Regions from separate parts of the Homo sapiens genome. Here region 1 is linked to region 2. Evidence: fine-mapped expression QTL. A gene starts in region 2. The other region holds a variant in brackets. All regions are shown on one strand. Distances are between the middles of the regions. Region 1 overlaps IMMP2L (inner mitochondrial membrane peptidase subunit 2). Region 2 holds the start of LRRN3 (leucine rich repeat neuronal 3).

Region 1 (2,931 bases), 78 kb after region 2:
ATTTTACAGTGCCACCAACAGGGCACCAGGGCTCCAATTCTCCACATCTTTGACAACACTTATTATTTTTGTGTTTTCTTTTGTTTGATAGGTGTGATCCTAATGGGTGGGTGTGGGATGATATCTCACTGTGGTTTTGATTTGCATTTTCACAAGCTTGTTGGCCATTTGTATGTCATATTTGCAGAAATATCTATTCAAGTCCTTTGCCAATTTTTAGATGGCTTATTTGGTTTTTTGTTGTTGTTGCATATAAGAGGTTTTTGAATATTCTTTATATTAGCCCCTCATCAAATATATGATTTTTTTTCCCATTCCATAGATTACCTTTCACTCTGTTGACTGTGTCCTTTGATGCACAAAAGTTTTAAAGTTTGATGTAGTTCCATTTGTCTGTTTTTGCTTTTGTTGTCTGTGCTTTTCATTTCATATCCAAGAAATCATTCCAAAAGCCTTTTAAATAGTCAACTTATGATAAAAACAGAGTTCAGTGATTCAAAGATTAATCCAGGAGTCATTTATATTTGCATTTAAAATGTAATTTGTACATACATAAGTGTGTGTGTATGTGTGTGTGTATATATATATACACACACAATTTTTTTTTCTTTTGACACAGAGTCTCACTCTCCTGCCAAAGCTGGAGTGCAATGATGCAATCTCGGCTCACTGCAACCTCTGCCTCCCAGGTTCAAGCAATTTTCGTGCCTCAGCCTTCTGAGTAGCTGTGATTACAGGCATGCGCCACAATGCCTGGCTAATTTTTGTATTTTTGGGGTTTTGCCATGTTGTCCAGACTGGTCTCAAACTCCCGGCCTCAAGTGATCTGCCTCCCTCGGCCTCCCAAAGTGTTGGGATTATAGGCGTGAGGCACCACACCTGGCCTGTTTGTACTTATATTTGATTATGGATATGCCTACTTTTCTGAAAAGTAATTGCCAGCAAAATAATGAAGTTTTGCTGTGAATATATGACTTGAGAAGCTGGAAATATGTCCAGTTTTCCTGACTTGACCCCTAGGTCAAGACCTCCTTGATATGAGGGAACTTTTTACATGTTTGTCTTTCAAAGAATTTTCTTGGTAAGATGAAAGCTATATGAGGTGGTAAACCAGACTTGTTTTTTAAAAAAGAAAAAAAAAATAAGCAGTCTACTTAATGTTTAATCAAGATATACCACAGATAAACTAAACGAATAAAAGATATACATAATTAAGATTTTACTCTATAATATTGCCTAAGTTACAGGGAATCATTCTACTTCACTGTAAAATGAATGATTTTTTCCACTTGTAGGCAAGGGGCATATATGGGAGTTTGTATGTGGGAGGAGTTAGTTTGGAGTGATGCCTGTGAACATAACCTGCTTGCACTCAAATCCTCCTCTTCTCCTCCTTCTGTGTTCCTTTTTATGTTG[A/G]ATGGCTTCCTGTTCACCCACTTACTAAAACAGAAACTTGCACACCCTCCTTCCGTTTTCATCTCCCTCACACCTCCCATCCAGGCAGTCACCCAATTCTTTCAGTCTTACCTCGAAAAGTAAGCCTGTTTCTTTCTGTCCTTATTGCTACTTTCCTTGTGCAAGACTTCATGTTCTGCCTTAAAGTGTTGTAGAAGCCTTTTCATTGGCCAGCCTGCCTGCCTTGACTTGCCTCCTTCAGTCAGAAACATATTTATAAAATATGATTTGCTCATGTCTACCTCTTACATAAAACTCTTAAGTGGTTCTCAATTGCTCTTAGTACTAATACTGAAGTTATTATCGTGGCTTATAAGGTCTTTTGCAGTCTCACACATGTTTACCACAACAGCCTCATCTGTCCTTAGGTACTTTTCCCTTATATAATCTTTATCTAGGGGTCTTCTAAGGCCCTCTCTCCTTGTTTGTTTCTCTCAGTGGATTGTGGGGTTCATGAATTTAGGAATCATACCAATCTAGCTCACTGCTATAGTTCTTGTACCTAGTGCAATGTATAATACGTCAGGTATGCAGTACAATTGTGCTGAATGAATGAAAGCTGCAGTGCACATAAGCTATATGGAAGCCCTTCCTCTTCCTAATTGCAAATTTTCTTACAATAATTTAGGATGTTCGTTATTTTCTAACTCCCAACAAGCTTGAACAAGTTCTGAAAAAATAAGATACAGTGAACCCTCTCAGCTTTCATTTCCTCATCGGCAAGTTAGGGGCTAAAGCCTTTACTAATAAATCTGTAAGCTAAAGTGATTGGACCCATTCATCTCTGAAATTTCTGTTCTGTGATCCTATAAACATGTGTCCACCCTAACTTACCTAAAACTCCAGAATAGCTACCACATATGTAATGTATAAATAGTCGCTCTAAATCTATATTTATTGGCCTTCTAAAACATAATTTCTGTTAAGGTTGGTTTAAATTTTTTTAAAAGTCAGGATTGTGTCTTTATCAACTATGTTTCATTTGCCCCTATGTTAATATCATATATAAATATTACTATATGTGAATTATTTCATTGTAAATTGAAAAAGTATAATGTAGAGGAACTGAATGCATTCATGTTTATTTGCCTAGGTGAAATTTATATTTGTTTTTATTTTATTGGCTGCATTATTATGAAATACTGTTCGCACTATAGTGAGTCATTTCTGAAAGTAATTGCAACATTGTATGAGGTACTCAAACTCCTTAAAGGAAGAATAACAATATAAATTCAAAATGATAATGGAAATAATTGCATTGTTACTCTGAAAACTCGTGCTTGGACATCTCATCAGAAATGGTGCATATGAAAATTAGCCATATCAAATTTTACCTGAAATAGCCATAGAAATTTATTTTATCCCTGTACCTTTGATCTGCATTACATTTCAGCTCCTCAACTAATAGAATTCTCTCTCCCTGTACCTTTTTTCCCACTCGAACTCCATAAATATCTGTTACTCAATATAGACAGG
Region 2 (2,931 bases):
ATGCTAGGTTTCTTTTACTGTCTTTCCAGGACCCAGTAAAGAGGGCAGTGAATGTTTCCATGAATATCCTCAATTGGTGTTGTCTGTTTGAAAGCATATTCTAAGTAGCTGGCTTCCCTTTACAAGATTGGAAGTAAAAATTAACCCACACTGAATTCCATGAATCATCAATACATGGATGCTCATAGAGTTTACTGAGAGTAATTCTGTCTCAAAGGCATTGCTTCTGAAACTAAAGATGAGAAATATATCAGTAATATTTATGGTACCAGAGCACACTATTTTCTAGGTAGATATTTTGAACCTTTACTTCTATTTTTGTTTTCACATTATCCCCTTTTCACTAAATTAGGACGGTTCTACTCATATTCATAGCCTGCTTTCACTGAAATTAGAGGCAGAGAAACAAGGACATATTGTTAAAAATGAATAAATTAGAGCCGAATTAAGCCATCCAGCTCAACAACAGCAAAGGGAATATAGCAGTTGGTTAGAACAAACAATTTTCTTAAATAGGAAATGTACTTTAAAGCCATCCTGCTGTGATCCTGTTAATTACCAAAGATTAGAACTCTTCTGGTTCATGGGATCCTTTCACCTAGTGTGTGGCAGTTCCAGCTGCATTAGCAATCAGACATTTGCACTGTCCCTTCAGACCAGCGAGGGGATGTTATTAAAGGGAAGTCATTTACCCCAGTCCGTAAGATGTAGCCTGGCAGAAATTCAATAACTGTTTGTGATATGCTCATTCTGCTACTCTGCTTAGTGGTTTAGCTCTTAACATACAACAGCATTTGCCTTAATTTGCATCCACTGGATGAGACAAAATAAAAATGCCCCATTTGGTGGGTTGATTTCAAAACAGAGAATAATGTGTGATCTGCTTTTCACTACAAATAATGTGAAGAAAAAGGAAAATTGCACCCCATCACCCGTGACTCTCCTCTCCTCTCTGTCTCCTCTCTGTCTTCTCTCTTCCCCATCTCCTTCTCTCTCCCTCTCCTCCTCTCTTCTCCCCCACTGTTCCCTTCTCTTCTGTCTCCCTCCTTTTTCTCCTCCCCCCAACACTGCTTTTTCTCTCCCACTCACATCCTCTAATGGGCATTCAAGCTAGTAAAATGCATGTTGGAGAATCTCACAAACACAGCTAGGCACACACAGAGCCAGCTGGGTTTTGCATGTGAATTTCTTCTCAAAAGTGCAATAAAAGAAAAATGCTCTTAGAATTCAGACAAGAAGAAGACATCAAAGGAGGATTTAGGTGTAAAAACATGATCATCGAAGAGACAAGAAATAGAACGTATTTTAAAATATATGTGTATTTTAAACTTACCTTGAAAAGCAGTTTCAGTGCTAGCCCACCTCCGATGTCCTTGCGTGCTGGATTCCTCAGTTCCTTGGTTGAGATAATCACATGGTTGTGTTCTTGCCCGGTATAAATAGGTGCATTTGTGTGTCTGTGTAACAAAGTGTACAAAATATATACTATAGATATGCACACATGCACGCAATCTTATCTCTCTATTTTAAAATATAAAGGAAGGCAGGAGGCTGCAGCCGGGATTCCTTCTTTTTCCTGGAACTCTTTTTCTCAGTCGGCAGGCTGAGGCTCTCAATCCAGTGAAGAGAGATCCTGTGAGCTGGCTTTATTTTTCCTTGTTTCCATGGTGGTTAGTGGTGCATCGTTCACCCGATCAGTTGTCACACTGACATGGTGCTGCCTGCTCAGCGGTCATTAATAACTGAACACCCTCCACTCCCCAGAGAGGAGCCAATCGCTTCAGACAGCCAAGATGTAGCACTCGCAGCTGCTCCAGTCTGGTTGGCTGAAACAAACTGTCTGTTCTATGACACTGCTGCTTAGGATACAAATAAATGAAACAGGCTTGCATGTTTTCCTAGGTATCATTTTCCTTCTTTTTTTTCCTTTCTGAGGGAATGTTGGGAATTTTTGACAAGTTTTCTCAATTTTAGGTTATCAGTCATTCAGAGAAATATGTTTTCAGTCTGCAAATAGAGAGGACACACTACTGATAAGGATTTCCTAAATATTAAAAACACCTGGTAGAGACTCAAACCTCCAACTCCGTCTCTGAAGTTCAGCAATGACTGCATTATTTAAGAAGAGAAGCTTGCAACTGTTTTGAGTGGCATTTGGTTCTCTATAGATCCTACTTAATTTAGCATATGTGCTTGGTGTTCAATAACACTTTTTTTTTTTTTTTTTTAGCAATGACATTTCTTGTCTGGATTGACCAGATTTTTAAAATAAAGCATATATTTGCCTCTCTGTAATTCACAACATTGGCATTTGAGGGGGTACTTTTTAAAAATATGTATTTCTAATTATACTCACTGACTTCTCTTTATATGATGTAATAAATCTAGGAGCTACATATGAATGGGTACATGTGTAGGTGTGTTTGTGTATCTGTGAGTGTGTGTGTGTATTTAGGATGTATTTTTTACCACTCTGGGGAAATATTTCGATTGTAATAAGTTAAATTATTTAAAAGACTATCTTTATTCTTAGGCCTATTAACTCTGAAAGGATATTTCCCAGGAAAATATACTATATAAGCCATACATGTAAAACATTTTTATTAATTACCAGAAATTTGGAAAACACAGAAACACATAGCAGTGCATATTTCTGAAAGAACATACATGAAAAATCAAAAAGCAGTTTTAAAAATGCATGTTTTACAACCTTAATTAGTATACTAGAGAAACATCTTGTTGAGGAGAATGGAACATGAGGATTAATATATCAACAGGTCAAAAGCAGGCTAGTCATGACTCCAACCCCAGTTTTGAGAGACTACCCTCTAGTGGAGTAAAGAGAAATGGCACTTATTAGATTTACTTAGGAAAAAAAAAACAAAACCTTCACATCTAATTGCTCCTTAAGTGCTTATTGACATGACATAG

The links. PIP is the estimated chance that this variant, and not a neighbour inherited with it, causes the effect.
Region 1: its variant is fine-mapped to the expression of LRRN3 in whole blood (INTERVAL, PIP 0.94).

Annotation. Positions count from the first base shown.
Region 1 is chr7:111,012,036-111,014,966 of GRCh38, reverse strand. The region is part of intron 3 of IMMP2L (inner mitochondrial membrane peptidase subunit 2); the gene reads left to right. Among named protein-coding and RNA genes, the nearest start is that of LRRN3, 78 kb to the left of the region's middle. The variant A/G (reference allele first, on the strand shown) is at 1,417.
Region 2 is chr7:111,089,907-111,092,837 of GRCh38, reverse strand. LRRN3 (leucine rich repeat neuronal 3) reads right to left here and starts at 1,711. Exons shown (of 3, transcript NM_001099658.2): 1 at 1,334-1,711. All of the region lies in intron 3 of IMMP2L (inner mitochondrial membrane peptidase subunit 2), which reads left to right.